Regions from separate parts of the Homo sapiens genome. Here region 2 is linked to region 1. The links come from fine-mapping of genetic effects on gene expression. Tissue or cell type: prefrontal cortex. Region 1 holds a variant in brackets; the other region holds the start of a gene. All regions are shown on one strand. Distances are from middle to middle.

Region 1 (10,921 bases):
TGGCCTCTGATTCCCAGCAATGAATATTACTGGGATGGCTTTGCCTCATCATCACCCCTTTTTAGAGAGTCTCAAAGTGTGAACTAAGTGACCACTGCCAAGGTTCCAATGAGAGAATCAATATGAACTACAATGCAACACTGATGGAAAAAACAAGAAAGACACATTGTTCCTCAGGACTTAGGAACTCCCAGTGGGCCGGGCGCAGTGGCTCTCGTCTGTAATCCCAGCACTTTGGGAGGCCAAGGCAGGTGGATCACCTGAAGTCAGGAGTTCGGGACCAGCCTGGCCAAGATGGTGAAACCCCGTCTTTACTAAAAATACCAAAATTAGCCAGGCGTGGTGGCATGCCTGTAATCCCAGCTACTCAAGAGGCTGACTGAGGCAGGAGAATCGCTTGAACCTGGGAGGATGAGGTTGCAGTGAGCCAAGATAGCAACATTGCACTCCAGCCTGGGCGACACAGCAAGACTCTGTCTCCAAAAAAAAAAAAAAGAAAAAGAAAAAAAAAGAAAAGAAAAAGAAACTCCCGGTGAGCCAAGGCAAGGCTCTGCCTATGCTCTGCACGCCCCTCCCAGGCCCCCTGGAGCCGCTGGGAGGTTTGAAGCAGGGTAGTGTTATTAAAAAGGGCGACTCCTATGAACCCGAACTTGCAAACCACTGTTAGACTTAATGTACCTCATTTACAATGATTTCACTCTGGCTGTGTGGTTTATGGAAAGTCATTTTGTGAGTGAAGTATCTTAAGTCAAGTAGTCCAGTTTAAAATACTGGAGAAAATTTTGTCTTTCAAACGTTCCCATAGTCTTTGGATGCTAAAAATAAAAGGGCAAATTTATCAGGTCTTGAAAAGTTTTGCCAGTTATTGGCTGGAAGAATTTCAGAAAATTCACTTGAAAAGAACAATCCTATTTCCCACGCAGACACCATCCCTGAGGTGGCATGGACCGCGCGTTGTGAGAGGCCTGGGTCTGAGCTCCTGTAACCTACTGACTGAAAAGCAACTGCCCGTCAGCATCGTGCTGGATGCTTCTGCAGTTATCTCTCAAACAGAGAATAACCCTGCAGGAGTCCCTCCCTCCTATAGATGGGAAACTGTAGCTTGTGGGGGCTACCTAGCTTACCCAGCACATCCAGAACCCTGACTGCCAGGCCTGGACTCTCCTCCCACGTGCCACCGCATGTGCTACCACATGGGGTGGTCAGTGGGTCCCCTGTGGGGAGCTCCTCCTCCATCACACGTGTGCAGAGGCAGCTCTGGGTAGTGAGAGCTTTTCCCTGAGGAGCTCTGCGCACACACACCTGCTAGCAACACATGGCTCTGCTCCTGGCTGTGTAGAGCAGCAGCCTTTGGGAAAAATGTCTCGTGCTCTCAAGTACATTCCCCTTTGAGTGAAAACATACAGCTCCTTTGTTTTTGTTTTTTTACCTGTTGCAAAACCTTTTCCGTGAATATCTCTTGGAGTCTGGAAATCTCAACCACTCTCCCTTCGATTTGCCTTCATAAAAAGAACAGATTACATATTAACTATTAGCACTTGGTAATCTAACAGGACTGTTACACACTTCTAAAGAAATCCTATCTTCTACGTGAAGGTGGGAGAGACAGGGGGCACACTGTGTCGGCTGGGGGAAGAGGAGATGGGAGAGGAAGGCGAACTCTCCTTACTGGGTCACCTTCCCTGTCTTCTGGCATAGCCTAGCACACTGGTCTTTTTGGAAGTCCACTCTACCATGCCAACTGACCCTCAGTCCCAAGAGGTGGGTGTGTGCAGTGCCCTTTGCATTCTGTGTCACTGCTCGGGGAATGGGGAGGGCCTGGTTGTGCCCCAGTTACAGAAAGCAGTCTCCAGTAAGTTCTCTGCCTAGCCTCATCACCATGGTAACACATGGTGGGGATTCAGAAGGTCAGAATATGCTGATGATCCAGCTTTGTTAATGCTCAGCAGGTTAAAGAAAAAAGTGTATTTACCTTCAAACCAACTCCCTGTTCCAAGAAAAAAGCTCCTCTGATTCATTTAGAAAATGCCATGTCTTGGTTTGGCAACGGAGTGTTCTGTCGGATCTGAAACACTTGGGCTAGCCATCTTCCTGGTGTCAGGGGCAGCATGGGCTACCCTGGGGGGCGGGTGGGGGCACATCTATTTAGAAACAGAAGCTGGCCCAAGCTGAAGTCAACTGCTGTTCCAGCACAAAGCAGCGACAGGAAGTGACAGGAGGCAAAAAGTGGTGGGAGCTGAGCTCCTGGCCAGGTGGAAGCAGTGATGAATCCCAACAGTATCACAGTGGCAGGGGGCAGGGGAGGAGATGTGGGAAGAAAAGCCAGTGAGTATCTGGGCATGGGGGAGTAGCGGGGTGGGGGCGGTAGTGGGGCAGACAGTGAAAGCTAGGCTGTCAGAGGAGGACTAGGAGGTCCATCTCTGAGGGCAGAAGGCGAAGAGCCCCTTGGAGGCTGACACCTACACTGAGAAAGTCCTCAGGCTGTGTGAGTGCAGCATCAGGATTGATTTTATTTGGGGGACATGTCCACAATACAACAGGCTCTGCAAAGTCCTGGGCCTTACTTTCAGCATGCTCCAAGCCTTCCCACAGAAACTAGAGGCTAACGGGTGCATGTGTGAGTGACCAAGGCCTTGCCTTCTGCATTCCTGACTCCCTGGTGGGTACAGGAGCAGGCAGACCCCAGTGGAACCATTTGCAGAAGAGGGCTTCCCTTGGTTAGCTGCCCTTCATAAGGGCCCCATTTCATTTCAGAGTCGCTGCGTGGAAACAGCCCGAATGGTGGTGGAAATTATACGCAGGTAATCTGTAGTCACTCCTGTATCTCTCGGGGTGGGAAGCACCTGGGCCCCCCGCAGCAGTGGCAGCAGGCAGGAGGTAACCCACAGGCCCACAAGCTGAGGGAGTTGTGGATTCAGGCCACATGCCCACCCCAGCCCAGTCAAAATGGCTGAGGGGGGCTGCACCAGCCCAAGGGCCCCATGGGGATGCCTGGGCACCAAGGTAAATAAAGTTCCTAGTTCCTGGAAAAGTTGTAAAGCAGGCTATCAGCTCACAGAGGAGCTACAAACATACCTCACTTCATCAAACAAGCTGTTCATTTCACCAATTAGTCGCTGATTTTCCTGTTCAAACTGTGAGGAAACAGACACACTCAGGATGACATCATACTGAACTTAGGCAAGAGTCTAGCAAGAAAGCGGACCTACGCTCCAGGAATCACTGCCGAAGCCCCCATTTCCAGCTGCGGCAACGTGGCAGCCGGTGCTGGACGACCGTTAGCATTAGTGTGAACAACGTCCCTGCTTTCAGGAGAAAGTTTTAAAAAACAGCTGTGCTGCCTGGTAATTGACTTCTCCATCTCAACCACTGCACTCCAGGGGTACAAGCTGACTGCTATGGCTGTAGCTGTATCTACCTACCCGCTCTCCCCTGGGATCCCACGGCCTGCTTCCTGACTCTAGTACCATTATTAAGAAAATTCTTTTGTTGTTGTTTTCTCTCATGAACTATACTGAAGGACTATACATATTTTTTAATATGGAGAAGGATCTGGTGTGGGGAGGGTCTGGAGAGGAAGGGGAGGTGGGCAGCTTGGCCGAGCTGCCTCTGGGCCCCTCTGACTTCAGAGCCTGGCCACTCCACTGCTCAACAGGGACAGAGGCCCAGAGCCAGAGGAGCGTGTTTCCCAGTGCTCAGGCTGGGTGAGGACGGGTGCCCTGACACCAGGGATACATGGGAGCTTCTTGGAGCTGAGTGAGCTTGGCACAGACAGTTGCTCTCCCAGCCATTCTTGCCAGTTTGATATGGGCCAAAGAAAAGGATGGAAGCTCCTGAAACTCAGCACAGAGAATGGACAGGAACAGCTCCTTGCCCTCACTGCAGGCCCCCACAGCCCTGTCCTCGTGTGTCCACTCAACTCCCGCAATGTGCAGGGAGTCAGGGGCGTCCTGCATTTCCTCCCCGATGCATCCCGCAGGCCCCACTTCTCCAGGACACCTACCCTGGCCCCTAAGCTCAAACTTATTTCTCATATTCCTATCCTTGGCCTACCATTTTCTGAAAATATCTTAGGATAGTAGCGCCCAACGGTCCCTTTCTGCCTTGTAATAAACTGTGCCCATCCCAAACTTCCCGTGTCACCCTGAGCTTCCTGAGGGCGGGAACTGGGTGGAACATAACTTTGCAAAGGCATTCCAGTTGTTCTTTCTTTCTTATAGATTAAAGCTGCCATCAAATCCACAAATATTTTCTGAGGCATTCTGTAAGCAGGAGTGGGAGGGATACATACAAGCAAGCCTCTGGAGGCTCCGAATCGATGGAAGATCTGGCTTATCACTTGCTTAGTAAACCAAAAATACAAGGGAAACAATGGTTATGGGAGGCAGCTGACCACCACGGGCTATGCTGGCACTTCATTCAACAGCCTGACCTTGTTGCCATTGTCCTAGGGCGGAAATGAGTTGCAGGGTCTCCCCAGCAGCCTCCTTCCCACCCAGGACCCCTCCCCTCCAAGTACCCCAGCTGTGCTCTATGCAGGCGCTCTTCACACACACGCCCCTTCCTAAGTCCACCAGTTTCGCCCCCGCACATGCACTTGCTGTATTCAGCCCTTCCCCTACCGTCCACATTCCACCCTCACCGTTTCTCACTTGCCTCCAACCTGTTATCCAATCCTTGGTCAAAGTGATCTCAAGTGCTGGTCATGCCAGAATGCCTCATGGTGGCCTTGCCCGCTGACCCTACAGATCAGGTCTAGGGCACACTGTTATCCATGCCCTGGCCACGTGACATCTCCCATCTCAGCTCTGCTCTGACAGGCTAGTTTCCTGCCTGGCTGCAGAACTCCACGTGGTCCCTCAAAACCCCAGGCATCTTCCTAGCGATCTGATACCTCAGGGCAGACTGAATCACCTTCTCTTACTTTCTCACTCTTGTTACCAAG[T/C]TCCCCTGTACTTGGCTCTTCAAGGACATTTCTCACACTTGTTCAGGGGGCTTGTCTTCTCTCTGTGGAAGGCAGCTGTCCTCCTTTGGACACTGAGCCCAGCCCAGGGCCTCACACATGACAGAACACCAGTTCTCGGCCCCGGCTACTCAAAACACAAGGAGGCATCTGCTGCACTCCAGACCCACCGGGCCAGAAAACGGGGAAGGGGCAAAGCTCTGGGAAGGGCGGAAGTGCCAGGAAAGCTCCCTGCAGGACCAACTCATCCACAGCAGGGGGCCGTGCTGGCTGCTGACACAGAATTGCTTATGGCCCCTTTAATTAGGCAAGACAAAGGCTATTTAAGAGAGTAAAACTTTCACTTTTGAGTTTGAAAGTATCCGCTCTGTTAACTTCAACAGTTACTTAAGAGGACAGTATTTAAGGAAAACATGTAATTACTAAAACATGCAGGCGCCAATTCACTTTGGCTAATTCAGGTACTACTCAGCTTTCCCTGGGTGGCGGCATTTTCTTGAATTTTTCTAATGACAAAATATGGCCCTGGCCCTGACCTTTTAAATCCACAGTCCCTTTTATGCTTTGAAACTGTTCCTAAACAAAATTAACTAGTGGTTTGGGGTGATTCATTCCTGGACTGTTCCTTGGGAACAAAGCTTTTCTTGTTTCCTCCCCAATTTGAGGGCCTGTGGTATAAGGCACTTAGGTGCGGCACCTCCTCTTAGGCCTCTTCGTAATTGTTAACTTCTGATAGCTCCATGTCCGCCCTCCACTGCACTCAGGAGTGGGATCAGATGCTGGCTCTAATTTCCTTCCACCCCACCTGAAAAATACCTAGTCCCTAGAGGAAGAGAAGCAGGTGCCTCAAGGATCAAAGGTGCTAAGGGCTGAGGAGAGAGGTTTGCCAACGGCCAGGAGTTTTAATGGAGAGCCGCCTCTGTGTTTAAAAAACAAAAGGCCTATTTCCCAGACAACTACAAGGTCACTATTACTTAAGGAGGCTGGCAGGGCCCAGGACAATTAGATCATGGCAAGGCTGCTGACAACACTGACTTGTACCAGGTTTCAGTATGGCTTCCAACGCTGTCTAAATGGCAAACCTGTGTGCCTCCCTTCGTCTGTTGCCAGGTGGCAGGCATAGTGGTGGATGTACCACGTGGATATGGGAGCCAGTTCTGGGGGCCTTATAGGAACCCTGGGGCAATGCTGGGCCAGTCACTGGCTTCTGGTGGGCCTGTCAGTTTCTTTGGGGACAGATGTGGTGATTCTTATCCTTTTCTGCCTGACCCTGAGGATGCAAAGTCACGGCTGGACTTCCAGCCCCTCACCTTCTAAGCAGTAAGCTGTTTTGGAGGTCACAATCTCTGGGCGTCTCTGTCTTTGTCACTAAAATGGGGATAGTAACAGTACTTAAGTAGTGGGGTTGTTAGAAGGAATACATGAGTGAATACATGTGAGTTGTCTACCAAAGTGCATGGCATATAGTAAGCTCTCGGTGAAGGCTGTCTATCATGATTTAATCTCTTGGGTGTCAGTTTCTGGATATGCAAAATGAGCGGTCAGATGCTGTGGGACCCCTTCTACCCTCTAGTCTCAAAGTCCTAGAGGCCTGCTGTGGCTCTCAGCCATTTCACTCTCCCAGGCACTGGGAAATGCACCCATAGCATCTTCTTCCAGAGCTCGCTGAGCCTCACTAGCTAGTATCTGTCTCTTTGTGGCCACACTTTGCAAGGTGCGGTGCTGAATGAAAGACCTGGTCTCCAAGGTCAGCACGACAGATGGGTATCTAGATGCTTTGTGAAGACAAACCTGAACACAATCAAGGAAATTCTTATTTTCCTATGGAATTGCAAAGGAAGGTGAGAGGCCTAGATGGTGGGTACGGTGGGCAGGTTGGGCCCTCCATGCATGGTGGTTGCCAGCCGCTGCTCTGGGCTCCCTGCATTGGCCCATCTGCTCTACGCTGTTACGGTCTCCTACCAAAACACAATGCTTTCCTTCAGCTAGACCAGCACTCTCCCCCACCCTCCAACCATGGCAGCACAGCATCATGTTGAACAGCCTAGGACTTGGGACCTATGTGACCTAGGGCTGGTGACTTAAGCTCTCTGTAAAACGGGGCCAGCAATACTCTCTCCATATGGGTTGCATAAATGAACATATGCTGAAGGGCTCAGAGCAGTACTTGGCACATGGTATGTGTCACATGCGCATTAGACAATATCATTATTCAACTGCTTTATCCCATTTAGAAGTCAGTTAGACTTTCCAATCAAGCCCTGCTAAAAGGTTTCTAATCTGGTTTAAAGGATACAAATCCACATTGTGAATATATTGTTATAGAAATCCTTTTCTAATCTAATCCTCTTTACTATAATTTTCAAAAGAAAATCACTCCTACAAAGGCCTTTCAGTATAAAATGACGCCAAGAGAAGTATTTGTGTCACAAAGAGCCAAGAAAAGCTGAGGAGCACAGGGGGACCATCCCAGAAAGCCCTCTGGCCCTCATAGCTCAGGAGTCCCCTGCCCAGCCCTTTCTGGACTCTTCCAGACGTGCTTTCTCTGTACCAAACCCCTTCACACTTCTGGCTGTGTGACCCTCACCTCGATCCCCTATGATCCCCATAATGTGACAGTAGACGGACTCTGCCGTATCCTTCTGGTGGAAGCCAGCATTTGCTGTGCCCCTGTAAACCTGGAACCTCCCCAGGGTCTGTCCAGCTCTCACTATGTGGTATTCAGATTCCACCAATCCTTGTTCTAGATGCATGAGCTGAAAACTGGCGAGCCCTGCCAGCCAGCCACTGGGAGTTTCTACAGGCCTACCTCAGGGGACAGGGCCTTGGAAGACGCCTTTCATGTGGATTTAAGAAACAGAAGCCACATTCATGTTTTAAAAAAATTATCCCAAGGAGTACATCAATAAATGCAGGTGGTTTTACCTGAGGCAAGTAAAGTGAATGTGTGTTTAGAAAGGGAGAAATTTTCTTGATGTAACTTTGGAAAACAATTTGGTTCCACTCAGCCTGACCACAAACACCTGCAAACTCAAAGGCATTAATATACCTGTATCATGAGTTATATAGGGAAATTTATTGTGCAAATCATATAATACCCTGCAACCATTTTGAAATATGTAATAACTGTTCCTTTGGGTGAAACAATGAATTATATTGCTATTATTGGGCTTAATTCATTATTTTACCCTGAGGAAAAATTCCGAAACAGTGATTATGAATTATGACCACGATTTGCTACAATATTTTCCAATTTAAAACCAACAGTGTTGTATTTCTTTCTCTTTATTTTCAAAGTTAAGCCTTTTAAATAAGATTTGAGTTAGTCAGACTATAAGATATGGTACTTAGCTATTATTCCCAATTAAGAAAGAAGTTAACTGGACATTAAATAGCCTGTCATAAAAGTACTGAACATTACAGCCTTCTGCCCGATCCTCTTGCAGTAACACAATAAAAATTAGGAAGTCCTGCTGATTCTGATTGCTTTAGTCATTGATACTACCATGCTAGAGCTACCAGTGTTACTGGGAGTGGCCGCTGGTGTCTTTAGACAATGACTCGGGACAGTGGAATGAAACAGAAGCATGCTGCATCAACCTCAATGTGGGGAGAGGAGCCGTACTCTGACATATCAGTTGCTAAAACACGTGCAGGGCATGCCACAATGCACAGACATGGCAGTATCCTTCTGGTGGGAGGGAGTCACCATTTGCTCTGCCCTGCCCTCTGCTGGGTGCTCTTACAGGTGCTACTGCATCCAGCGCTTGAGACAATTCTGTGGGGTATTGATTCTGAAGAGATCACTGATGGCAGTGATTTCTTGCCTCAGCTTACAAAGATAGTAAGTGGTATAAATTCATAGCCAACTCTGTCTAGTCCCAAAGCCTATGTTCTTTCATCATCCCTCCACAGGATGAGAGCATCAGGTGATTACGAATATCCTCACTGCTAGCCTTCCTCTGGTCCAACTCTCACACCTACAGGCTGCTAAGTCACGCAGCTGTAAAGGTTAACATGCTTAGCTCACCATTGCCTGCCAGAGAAAGGCAAAAATCCTCAGACAAACAACCCACACTATTGTTATTCTAGCTATTTCCTTTATGAAGAGTGGTGGAGTGCATTAAAAAAGAAAGAAAGAAAAAAAAAGCCCAACACAGAAGGTAAACTCTTCTTAAATACAAACGTATTCTTTCTTAATGAAGAGACAGAGCTGTACACATTTTTTGTCTAGCAAAGAAATGGGGCAATGGTATAATATTTGGGGAAACGACTCATTTCCACTAATACAAGGATTTCATATAAACCGGTGAAAACCTAAGAGATTTTTAAGAAACTTCTGCCATTATTTGGCTGTAGGACGGGAATATGATCCAATCCCTCTTTACATTCCTTTGTTGGCTTCTCCGCCCCAGCCTCCCTCCAGTGGAGTGTACCCCAGGGTGGTGTCCATGACCCCTTCTCCTTTCTCGCTGTTCATCATGTTTCTAGAGAGCCTCACGCAAGCCCATCCTTCAAACATCAGCTGTAAGATGTCTCCCACATGCGTTTCTCTAGCCCGAGCCCTGGAGCCCATAGACACCTCTCATGAATGTCCCACAGGCGCCTCAAACTCACACCTGTCTACATGAAATTCATCATCTCCTGCTCAGCCCCAGCCTGCCCACCTTCTGTGCACCCTCCCTCCTCCTGATGACCCACGTCAGAAAGCTCAAGGTTCCTTCCTCATCTCACACTTCAGTGCAGGCCATTTCCTACACCACAGCTCTCAACACTACCTTCACTGCCACTCCCGGCTCAAGGCCCTCCTCATCTCTCAACCTGACTGACAGCAATGACTGCTTGGAATCCCTGCGGCTGTCTTCCTCTAACCACCGACTATACAATGTGCACCTCGAGGGCCTAGGTCCCACATTTGCTGGATTTGGTGAGCACTTATTTCAAGTCATAAGGTGAATTCTGGAACATGAAAGAAGCTGGAAAGGAAGGCAAGGACCTTGCAGGGCACTTTAAGGTGTTTGAGTCATTTTCTTAGTTCAGAATTATTTTTGTCTGTAAAGGACAAAGACAGCTCTGCTTAGTATTCCAAAGAAAATATCACAGGCTCTGAAGGAGAACCCCCAAAGCAAGTCTCAGGAAAGTCAGGGCTAATGGTACCATCACTGGAATCAGTTTCAAGCTTTCAAGGCGATGATTTTAAAGGGGAAACCACTCATCTGGGTGGATAAATCTGTGTGAAACTGAATTGTATATGAAAGGCATATGAAAATGGTCTGAGCTCCAGCTGCCATCCTGCATGCCCTGACCCTGCCATGATGGCATGCATGCCACAGTCCTTCCCTGCTCATGGCACACGGGCAGCTATGCCCAATCTCTTCCATCCTGTGCAGGGAGAGGCTCTTCTGCCTCTTTGTACAACCTGCCACTCTCAAGGGTAAAGGAAGGGGAAACAGAATTTTTCAAGCACCCCATGTGTCTGGCTCTTTGTTGCATGCACCTCATGGGCCAGCTCACTCAAACTTTAGCCCCACCTGTGGGGTGGCCATTTTTTGCCCATCTCACAGATGAGGGAACAGAGGTCCAGAGCAGTGAGAGGGCCCAGGGCTGCAATGATGAGGCTGCGTGTGGACTCCAGTCAGACAGTACACTGTTCCCACTAGGCTGTGCTACCTTTTGGCTTTTTTGTCTTCACTTGTCCATGCCATTTTTAGGAAAGAGATTTGGTTTCCGTCTTTTATTTCAGGCATGGAGAAGAAACAGGAAGTCCAAAGAGCAAGAGGATGCTGAGCCAGTCCTCTGCCCTTGGCGGCCAATGCTCACGAGAGCAGACATGTGGACCTGGCCATCCCTGGAGGTCCCCAGCCTGCACAACTATGCTTACAATGACACTTCGGTGGGCCGGCGCGGCTGTTCTGACTTCTCTGCCTGGCTGGCCTGTGTCAGTGTGCCACGCTGCTC
Region 2 (10,921 bases), 40 kb before region 1:
GCCTGACCTGACTTTCTTACTATGCACTTGAATTCGAATTTACACCTCTGATGTTCATGTCTTACTTTACTGTGAATGTAAGCTAAGTGGATGCCTATTCAATTAAGCAAACATTTCCTGATTACCAGGCCATGCTCTAGACAGGGGGGATATGGAAATGAAAGATTAAGTGGTTCTGCCTGATTTGCTCATGATCTATATAGAAATGTAAATACCCAGACTCCGGGATAGAGGAGCATAAAGAAAGGCCAAGCTTCAAAGAGGAGGCAACATTGGATCTGGGCTTTGGAGGATGAGGAGCAGTTTGCAAAATCGATGAGGAGTGGGGAAGGCAATCTAGGCAAGAGAAGCAGCATTTGCAAAGGCCTGGAGGCAGGCACTTGGGGGAATGGAGAATTTGGCTACAGGACAGGGTTTAAGGAGAAACAGGGATGACTTCACCCAGGTGGGCTGATTCTTCACATTGCAAATGGATTGTCCCATTTGCAGAAAGATCCAGAGCCTAATGTCTCTCCCGATTCTGTGTCAGTGTGCCGGCTGATCCCAGTGTGCCGGCTGGTCCCAGCGTGCCGGCTGGTCCCGTGGATTGAGAAGTGGACCCAAGAAACTTAAAACCATCAGAGATGAGGATGTGTGCAGGGAGTGACTGTTGTGGGATGCAGGTTTCTTTACGGGGTGATGAAAATGTTCTGAAATTAGTGGTGATGATTGTACAACCTTGTAAATATACTAAAACCAGTTAAGCGTATACTTTAAACTGGTGATATCTGTGGCATGTGAATTACATCTCAATCTAAAAACAAGACATTTGGATGAAGCATCGCTGGATCGACGTGGCCAGGCTGCAGAAAAACAGAGCAGAACCTCTGCTGATCACCTGCCACTGAACCTCCATAGGCTGACAGCACTGGGTGGCCACCCTCCCAGCAGGACCTCATCCATCCTGGAGATCTGGCTGGCTGTGGGAGGCCTGACTAGATCCTGCAACCCATCCCAGCTCTGCAGGGAAGCCTGTGGCCGGGGACTCATCATTTGACTTCTGTGACCTGCAAAGAGGCTCATGAGGCCTCTAGGGGAAGAGTCACCTTAGTCACTCTGAACACTTGTCACATAACCAGGAAAAGTGTCTATCACCTCGCCCTGGCTCCAGCACCGGCTGCTAAGAATAGAGACCACAGGAGTACAGAATTAGAGGTCAAAGCAATAGTAATACCTAAAACAGGCACTTAAAAAAATAAGAATAGCTCATTTGATTCTCACAACACTGCTCTGATGGAGGTTTCATTATCTCCATTTATAGATGGGGAAACTGAAGCATAGAAAGGTTAAGCAGCTTGCCTGAAGTCACACTGCTAGGAAGAGAGGGACAGGATTCAAAATCGGGCCACGGCTTAGCCACTGTGTCACATTGTCTCTTGCTGTGACAGTCTGGACTTCAACCAGTGGGACAAGGGAAGTTGCTAAAACGCTTGGACCTGGAAGTACCAGGGTCATTAGAGAGCAGCGCCTGGCTGCCCTGAGGAGAGGGAGCAGGGTAGGAGTTACAATCGTACAGGCAGTGATGGGTCTGTGCCTGAGATCAGCAACCCTGGAAGTATTCCTAAAAGAGTCATTTAGGGCCAGGTGCAGTGGCTCACTCCTGTAATTCCAACACTTTGGGAGGCTGAAGCAGGTGGATCACGAGGTCAGGAGATCAGGACCATCCTTACCAATATGGTGAAACTCCGTCTCTACTAAAAATACAAAAATTAGCTGGGAGTGGTGGCACGTGCCTGTAATCCCAGCTACTCAGGAAGCTGAGGCAGGAGAATCACTTGCACCAGGGAGGCGGAGGTTGCAGTAAGCTGAGATCACGGCACTGCACTCCAGCCTGGCGACGGAGCAAGACTCCGTCCCAAAAAAAAAAAAAAAAAAAGAGTCATTTAGAAAAACTGAGTATGTGTCAACAATCTTCTGTGGCACTTGGATTTTAAATTGTTGGTGCTGGGATGAAACTGGTCCAGGGGGAGATCGCATCCCATTGATTTTCCCTTTTTGTATGTTGTGAAAATACCTGACATCTGTTTGACCTGCAACCACCATTGCAGCCTCAGCCATCCCCATTTTGGTGGCTGTGGCTTCTTCAACCTAATTTCTGCCACCCTCTGTGAATGACTTGGGTTCTCCAAATCACCACACCCTTGCAAGCTTAATGCCTGTAGTGAGCTGAATGGCGACCCTTAAAAGATATGTCCACATGCTAACCCCGGGAACCTGATTTACCTTACATAGTAAAAGAGTGAACATTATCTTATATGGCAAAGATAGGATTAAGTTAAGGATTTTGAGAGGGAGACCTTATCCTGGATTATCCCAGCAGGCCCTAAATCCTATGATGAGTGTCCTTATAAGAGACACAGAGAAGAGGAGGAGGCAATATGACTGGAGTGACATGAAGGCAGAGATTGGAGTGATGCAGCCACAGTCAAAGAATGTCTGGAGCCACTGGAAGCTGGAGGGGGAAAGAACAGGTTCTTCTCTGTGGCTTGTAGAGGGAGTGAGGCCCTGCTGGGACCTAGACTTTAGACTTCTGGCCTCCAAAGCCAGGAGAGAACATGTTTCTATTGTTTTAAGCCAAATTTGTTCCAACAGTGGCAGGAAGCTCATATACTGTCTTAACACATTCTGTTCTCCTACCTGGAATGCCTTCCCCTCTGCACGCACCTCTCTCAGGCCCACCTGTAGGAAGCTTTATCCACAGTCTTTACCCACAGTCTCTGGATGTCCTCCCTCCTGGCAAGAGGCAGAGGCCACTCTCCCACAGGGCCACTGCTCCCAGCAAAGACTTGCCCTTGTCCGTAGCTCCCTGCGGGTGGCGCTGTGTCTCATGCATTTTGCATTGTCCATGCCCTTCACAGGGCCCAGATACAATCAGCAGAGGAAGAAAACCACAGGATGAAACAGTCCCAATGACCAGCACCAGTGAAGACCCAAGACAGCACAAAAGGCCAGCTAGCAGAGAAACATGATTGTTCACCGTCCATCTCTGGGACAACCTAGGTCCTTCTTGCCTTTCTGTCCTCCTCAGTTGACAGAGTCTCTAAGGGAGGGGCAGGGCCTCCACTTTGTTCCTCCTGGTGTGGAATTCTGACCAAGTGTGTGTGTGTGTGTGTGTGTGTGTGTGTGTGTGTTTGCGCGCGCGCGTGTGTGTTGGGTTCTGTTAAATGCTTGAGCCTGAGACGGGGGGCGGGGCGGGGGGGGGTGCGGGAAAGCCATTTCCTTGCTTAAGCCCAAAGGGTTTCTCCTGACCAGTGGGTCACTCTCATGGCAGATGCCTGGGCAGATTTCTGAAGTGGAGCAAGAGAAATCTTCTCTTCTTCACCTGCTTCAGGGAGGCATCAAAGTGCCAAAAAGGTGGGTTCTGTGGGTCCCCGAGGCCCGTGGCAGGGGCCAGAGTCTGACACCCGCTTTCCCTGGGTTGGGGGCGGGGTGCCTCTGCCAGGAGCCTGGGTTCAGACCAGGCTGGCCTGTGGTCAAAGGCACACTTAGACCCTGGCTGGAGAGTTGGGGCGAGTTACGAGATACCCACTAGGTCACCTGTCAAAGACGGCTAGCCCTCCTGGGGATTTTGAAATCAGGGCACCCGCGGCAAGTTCCCAGGCTGTGCCTGGGGCTCAAGGCGGTGGCTGCTCCTGTGCTCTGGGCTTATTCCCAGGATTCTCAGACGGCTGATGGAAAACGCCCCGGACCCTCCGTAGTGCCGCGGGGAAGTCCCCGGAAAGGGTGTGAAAAAGTATCGAATTTGGGTGATGCCTCCTCCTCGTCCAGCGCCTGACAGGGCCCAGCTCCTGGCCCAGGTGCCCAGGAGGCACCGATCCCCGCAGCCGGCCTCCTCCCGCGCGGGCTCCACTCCCATTTCGGCCTCGCCCCCACACCCCATAGTCTTTCATCCGTGAGTCCTGCAGGCAGGACGGGTTGGAGGTCTGCAAACAGGACCCTCTCTGGGAAGCCGCGACAGCGGCTGAGCTCGGGGTTTGGGGGCGCAGGTCGGGCTAGAACCACCCCCCTTCTCTCCGCGTCCGGGCATCGTCCCAGCGGCCCCTCCTCTGTGCCCAGGATGCTCGGGCGGCGGCTGCAGTGGGACCTCCACCTTCTCTGCCAACCAGAGCGGAGGAACCTTTCCGCCTCCCTCCAAGCGGCGCACTGAGCGCTCTTTGCCTAGAACGACTTCCCTCCCGCTGCCTGGGGCAGCCTCACCCTGGGCGCCCACACCCCAGCCCTGGGAGAGCGCTACTCCGCCTCCCGCACCACCGAAAACCTCCTCCTCCTTTACGGGCCGCGCCTCCTTTACGGGCCGCGCCCCCTTTATACGCGGACGCGCCCTCTTTTGGTCGCCCCCTCCCCAACCCAGCACTAAGGAGCACCCTGCTCTGGTCTCCGCCACCACCCAGCGCCTCCTGGACCCATCCCCCCAAACCCTTGAACGTCCTCAGGACCCCCAGGTGAGCGCGGCGCGCTGCGGGCGGGGACCCTCTCTGCACCTCCCCGCACCCCTGGGGGTCGCTCTGTCCCTACGGTCCCCGCCTCCCCTTTCTCCTTTCTAAGCGCCTCGCGCCCAGGCCGCCGCCCGGGGTGGCGCAGCCCGCAGCCCTCCCGCTCCGGGCGCCCTCCGCCGCTCCGAGACCCCCTGGGGGCGCGTCCTCTCCCGCTCCCCTGTTCCCTCCCCCGGCTCAGGGCGGGCGCGTGGTCCCAGGGGAGGCTCCCGCCCAGCCCCGCACTCCTTTGTGCGGCCGGGCGGGCGCTGCGTCAAGGTGGAGGCGCGGCCACACGCGCGCACCCACCCGCGCGCACCCAGCCCCCGGGAGAGGCAGGAAGGGAGGCGGCGGCGCGAGGAGGAGGGAGCGGCCGTGGAGCCCAATCGTTCGCTCCCCTTCCCGGGTCCGCGCGCGGCGCCGCCTCCGCCATTGCTGCGAGCAGGAGCAGGAGACGCGGAGCTCGGAGCGCTCAGCTGACCTGCCGGAGCCGGGCGTGGGTGAGTGCGGCCGGCCGCGCCTGGGCTTGCCGAGGCCAGACCTTGCCCGCCCAGGAGCAGTGCCCGGGGGATGCCCATCTCCCGGAGTACGCGGGACGGGGCTGTGAACAGCGGGTCGCCCGGGTGCGGCGGCCCCAGGACCGGGGACCGGGTCTGGAGGTGCTGGGCAGGGGCGGCGCCCCCTTCCCTGGCCGCGGTGCGCCCTTGCGCCCGGCGCTTGGGTCCTGCGAGATGAGGGTCTAGAAATACACAGCACCACCCGACCCCCGCATCGGGCCGTGACCACCGCGTCCCCACGAGCCCTCCCCGAGACGAAGCGGGGCCGGGGAGCTCGCGGACGCCGGGACGCCGGTGGGTGTGGGTGCCCACTTCCCCCCCGCCCCGCCCCGGGTCTTGCTTGTGGTGACTCCCCCCGGCCCTCCCGCCGCAGGCTGCAGCCTCGGAGCTCCCGGAACGATGGTGAAGTTGGGGAACAATTTCGCAGAGAAGGGCACCAAGCAGCCGCTGCTGGAGGATGGCTTCGACACCATTCCCCTGATGACGCCCCTCGATGTCAATCAGCTGCAGTTCCCGCCCCCGGATAAGGTAAGCCCCCCCACGCCCCTCCACGTTGCCGGGTGTGCACCCCCAAATCTCGCACGGCGGGCGCAACAAAAGAAACGCGCCGCGTGCGCTGGGTACGCGAAGTGGGGGCGGGCTCGGGAGGCCGGAGGGAGCGCGGCGAGGACAGTGTACCCGCGCGGGATTCTGGATCGCGGGATGCTGGGCGGGGGAGGGGAGCCCTGCCTTAGATGATATTCTCGTCCTGACAGTGGAACGCGGTGGGGCAAGATTCCTTCGCGTTTTTCCTGGGAGCCTCATCCGAGAGGGCCCTGGCCCCGCAGCTGCCCTGCTCCTCCCTTGCCCCGTGGCCCCAGGGGCTCTGGATCGGGGGTGAGCCTAGGGGCGGGCGAGGCTGCCCCTGTACCTTCCCGGGTGTGGCAGTTCAGCCCGACTTGCCCCACCGAGGCGGGGGAGCGTTCTCCTTGGTCAGATGGCCCCTCCCCAGGGCTGAATTGTTCTCGCCCTTTCTGCCTGCCCCTGCCAGGCTGGCGCTAGGTGCAGGAGGGTGTGCGCGCTCACACAGGGTCTCCTTCCTCTTTGTTCCTTTTGTGAAATCTCCAAATAAGTGCCCGGGCTCGCTCAGTATTGGTGTCACTGGGAAAAACCATTCATCAACCTTTCCCCAAAGTGTTTTCTGCTGAATTTAAAGAATCTCCTCTTTTTGAATGTAGCATCCAATTAAGTAGTTTCTGTTTGCTAAGAATAATATTTCCAAGAGTTAACACTTAAAAATGTAAATAGATCTTTGCATGTCTAGGCAATTGTACTGTAAAATTCACATCTAAGACCATAGACACAGCATCTACTCTCAGCATCTTGCTGCCGCTTACGAACCACCACAGCCACGAATAATTCCCGGAAGTGCTTTTCTATTTATTTTCTCATTTAGTCCCTGGTGAAGGGGCTCTGAGCCAGGGCTCTGTCTTCGTTCCAGCAAGTTGGTGATTGCTGACGGGGTGGGTGTTGTGGGGTGGGGGTGTCCTGGTGGGGGCCCTGACCCCTGTGAAGGTGTCCTCCCAGCTTTATTGTGTGTGTCGTCTGGGGAGGGAGGCAGGAGCCGGGAAGAGGCTGGCAGCGGGGGTTTCAGTTCAAGAAAGGGGGATCAGCCGGCCACACCTGTGCCCCCCAGGCCACGGTGGTGCCACTCTGGGCCACTGATGGTCCAGGCTAGGCTTTGCAGGAGGGGCAGGGCTGCCTGAGGCCTCAGCTTCCACTCCACCCCTCCCTGTCTAGGCATCAGACTCGTCCAGTTAGCGGGGCCTGGCCCCGAGGCCCCCACACCCCCTCCTGCCTGGGCCCCCAGCTGCTCGGCTGAGGAGCAGTGGCGCCTGTGCCAGGAACTCCGTGTCCTGAGGCAGCACCTCTATCAGGTGATTCCCCTCACTTGGCCTGAGCCTCCTCTCTTGTCCTCAGTCTGTTCCATTCCAGAACCATTTGGCACAGTTGGTTTATACAGGGAGGAGGGTTTCAGGCAGGTATGAAATCCTCACCAACTAATTAGGTCGACCAGGAGTAGCCTAGGCAGCTCGGAAAGGTGATGAGTCTGCTCTCTCTGCAAGCGTCCGAAGCGGGGCAGCCAGCAGGGATGCTCTTCTCGGGTCCAGCCAGACCTTCCATCCCGGACTTCCCGCCGGGACTGAGTGTGGGTACAAGGGTTATGGCTCTTGGGATCATTTTCCAGAAGGCTTCTAAGGTCACAATGAGGGAACTGAGCCTCAGAGCATTTATGGGACATACCCAAGGTCACTGGGCTGAAGGTTACAGTCCTCCAGGATGCAGAAGTTTCTGGCAGTGCCTCTTACTCCACTGTGCTTGGAGCCAGATGTCTCTCACGTAAGACCTCTCTTAACCTGAACAACAGCAACGTGTTGCTAACGGTCAGAGTTCAGGGAGGCGATGTCACCTGTTTCAGGTGACATGGCTTCTGAGGGGTGGTGACACAGTTGGGTTATAAATGAGAATCTGTTCTGAGAACGTGTATGGAGTGCTGAGGTGCTGGGGTGCAGCGGTGACAGCAGTCACAGTGCTGGCAGCAGAGTCAGGGCTGGTCTCCCCTGACATTTGCCAGACACTTATTCTGCACCAGGAACTATTCTGCCAGTTTTACAGGTTTAAATTCTTTTAATGTGTTGATAATGCCATGAGGTCACTACCATGTTACCCCCATTTTGCAGATGTGGAAATGCAGGCACGGAGAGTTTGAGAATTGCCCAAGGTCACCTAGCCTGTTAGTGGCAGGTGGGGATAGAATCCAGGTCGACAGAATATTGATGGGGCCCCCACATACGGGAGAGGTTTCCATGGGTTTCCTCATCCTCAGCAGTAGCCTTATTTCCCATTCATTGGCCAGTCTAGGCCTGCGTGCTCAAGGTCACATGGCTAGTTGGGTCCAGTCGGGGTTTGAGGATGGCAGGGTGACACCCAACCACTGCCTCAAGCAATGAGTGCCTCACAGGGGTGGGTGCCCAGGCCAACCCATGCCAGGCACCCCTCCCTCTCCACCGCAGGAGCACTGGGTGGAAAAGGAGTTGGGGTCAGAGGCCAAGAGTGTGGTTACAAGGTTTATGGCTCTTGGGATCATTTTTCAGTGACCCTGGAATGGGCTCCGCTGTTCTTTCTCCCCAAGGCTGGCTTTGGGGGTCGTAGCACCGGATGAGAGGCCCTCTGGCTGCCCGCCTGGGGCTGACCATCCCCAGTTGCTGGGGTCTCTTTGTTCTGTCCTGGTCCCCACCATCGTGGAGAGCAGGTGACGGACTGCCCAATGAAGGGGCCTCGTCCCTCGGGGGAGAAAGAGCTTGGAGGTGGCTGGCTGTCTCTAGTGCAACAGCCTCTCCTGGAACCTGGCTTGGGGAGCGGGGTTTGGGGATTAGAGACCTATAACACCTTGACCCTGCTCTTGAACACCTCCCAGTCCAGTGGGACAGAGAAGTAAACAGTCCCTGGCAACGGGTGTGGTGAGTGATGAAGGCAGCGCCGCTGAGGCCAGGGCTGTGAGTGTCCAGGGCTGGGAGGCTTCTTGGGTCCATCTGAAGCTGCTGGGGTGTAGGGCAGATGCAAGGGCTGGTTTCCAGGTTGGACAAACATCGTTCTGCTTCACAGTAGGGGGTGGAGGGGAATGAGAGCAGGGAGACCCTTTGGGGGCTGTGGCAGGGGCAGGGGGAGAGGAGGATGTGGGGGTGGAGACAAAGAGGTTGATCCTGGATCTGTTTCCAGACAAGCTGGTGGCCAGCTTCTCCAGCCAGTCCTGGAGGGCTGTGGACAGTACCCTCAGACCTCCTCTTCTTGTGCCCATGGTGGCACAGCAAGGCCAGTGAAAAGGCAGGTGCAGCCTCCCAGCTTCCTGGGCCAAGCCAGGCTTTGGCTCTGGTGGGTGGAAGGAGCACTGGGTTAGGAGTCAGCTGCCAGGCTGCATCCCCGCCCTGCCGCCTATAAACCGCATGACCTTGGCCAATGAGCTTAACTTCTGTGCCCCTCGGTTATAATATTTCCCTCCTGGGACTGCTATCAGGATTATGAATGGGTCATTTCTCTGAAAGTCCTGCCACAGAGGAGATTTCCAAAAAGTAGTGGCTGTTCTCGTTCTTGTGAATTTCTTCCTGGCAAATGGTGACTTTGAATATGGGAGTTCCCAGACCCACCCTCTTTGGGCAGATATGTCTGAATGCATCTGACTTTTGTTTCTCTGTTTCCTGGATAAGGTGGTCGTGAAAACTAAGACCGAGTATGAACCTGACCGCAAGAAAGGGAAAGCACGTCCTCCCCAAATTGCTGAGTTCACCGTCAGCATCACGGAGGGTGTCACCGAGAGGTTTAAGGTGAGTGGTCCTGTGCTGGGTGAGATGCTGCTTTTGCCCCCAGAAGGGGTCTGCTGAGCTGCATAGATGCCCTGCAGGGAGGGCCAGGGTTTGACGCCGTTTGTCTGGGCTCATCCCAGCTGTGCACACCCAGTAGCTTGTGACTGCCTGCCAAGATGTTGTCCTTGTGCTTTTTGTACATTTCTTTTTTCTTTTCCTCTTCCAAAATGATCACATATTACTTATTTTTATAACAGGGGAAACCCACCCACAAACTGTCTTTTAGGCAAAGATTATAAACATATGAAAAATCACTTACCAAACATTACAATATTTACTTAACAGTTCCAGGAAGGAAGCAGGCAATAACAAAAAGATAACGCACAGCACTGATCACATGCCAGAAAGGGGTCCCAGCCCTTTACCTAGTGAGCTCATCTGAGCAACCCTCCTGGCACACCAGTACTATCGGTATAACCCATTTTGCAGATGGAAAGGTTGAGGCACAGAGTGGTCACAGCTCTACACAGCAGAGCCAGGATCTGATCTGCAGGGGGTCTGGCTTTGGGCCTGTGTGTATCCTCCATCCTTCCCCCCATCCCAATGGGATGAAGGGGTGCTGCTGAGAGCGGGAGGGTTCCAGCCTGTCTCGGTGGGAGGAGCCTTCTTGCCAGCCTGGCTGCCTTCAGAGGCCACGTTGGTTGAAGAACAAGTTGGGATATTGATCAGGAAACTCATTCTTTGGGAAACATGAGAGAGAGAGAGTAAAGCGGTAGCCTCATCCAGATTCAAGGAGGTGAATTGAGAGACATCAGTGGGCCCCAGGCCTTGCAGAGTGGCCCTGTCTGGCTCTCTGGTCACCCTCCACTTGGCAGTGTGAGCAGTTTGCTTGTGCTGGGGGCACAGGGACTCCCACCCCCACCCGCTGCAGTTTCCAGAGCCCCTGTGGGTATGGCATCATATTGGATCTCTGTGACAACCTTGTGGATCACAGAAGGTGGGACTGGGAGCCATCCCTGGTTAACAGATGAAGCCAAAACCACAGAGTGACTGGGGAAGCCAGGGCGTAATCTGACTTTCAGTCCCTCCTTCTTCCCGTTGCCACACACTGCCTGTCAGGGCCTGCCTGGTCCAGCGGGTCCCATGAGTGTTGCTGTGGGGCAATTACTTGTGTCAGCTCAGCAAATCCTCCCAGCAGCCCTCTGCCTGCTCCCTACTAATAGTAGGTACTATTTGTATTACCAGTGTTACAGATGGGGAAGTCGAGGCACAGAGCAGTCTGTGTCTGTCCCTGCTGGTATGTAAGGATGTCGTGTGTGCCGAGAGGCTCTTTTGGTGGCTCCTGGCTCGGCCCATCGTACGTTTTTGAGGTTCTTGGCCAGGACCAAGACATACTGATCCGAGGTCAATACCTGTCTTCTGCGCTGGCCAGTGGGATTAGCGCGTGCCTTATCTGCTGCCACTCACCTGTCCTGCCCCATTTGCACCCTGGGTTTGGCTGCTGTCCCTGGTT

Which allele goes with the higher level. Positions count from the first base shown, and alleles are read on the strand shown. Sizes are in standard deviations (SD) of each study's normalised expression.
As copies of T replace C in region 1, the expression in prefrontal cortex of the gene that starts at base 4,940 in region 2 goes down (small effect, 0.23 SD a copy in BrainSeq).

The links. PIP is the estimated chance that this variant, and not a neighbour inherited with it, causes the effect.
Region 2: it holds the start of NSG1, and the variant in region 1 is fine-mapped to the expression of NSG1 in prefrontal cortex (BrainSeq, PIP 0.95).

The regions. Positions count from the first base shown.
Region 1 is chr4:4,422,089-4,433,009 of GRCh38, forward strand. STX18 (syntaxin 18) reads right to left here. Exons shown (of 11, transcript NM_016930.4): 8 at 3,076-3,134; 9 at 1,430-1,499. Among named protein-coding and RNA genes, the nearest start is that of NSG1, 40 kb to the left of the region's middle. RefSeq lists an enhancer at 4,932-5,475. The variant T/C (reference allele first, on the strand shown) is at 4,946.
Region 2 is chr4:4,382,163-4,393,083 of GRCh38, forward strand. It overlaps NSG1 (neuronal vesicle trafficking associated 1), which reads left to right and starts at 4,940. Exons shown (of 5, transcript NM_014392.5): 1 at 4,940-5,011; 2 at 5,442-5,596; 3 at 9,313-9,429. The coding sequence starts at 5,468. It overlaps LOC112268462 (a long non-coding RNA gene), which reads left to right. Exons shown (of 3, transcript XR_007058004.1): 3 at 2,360-2,447.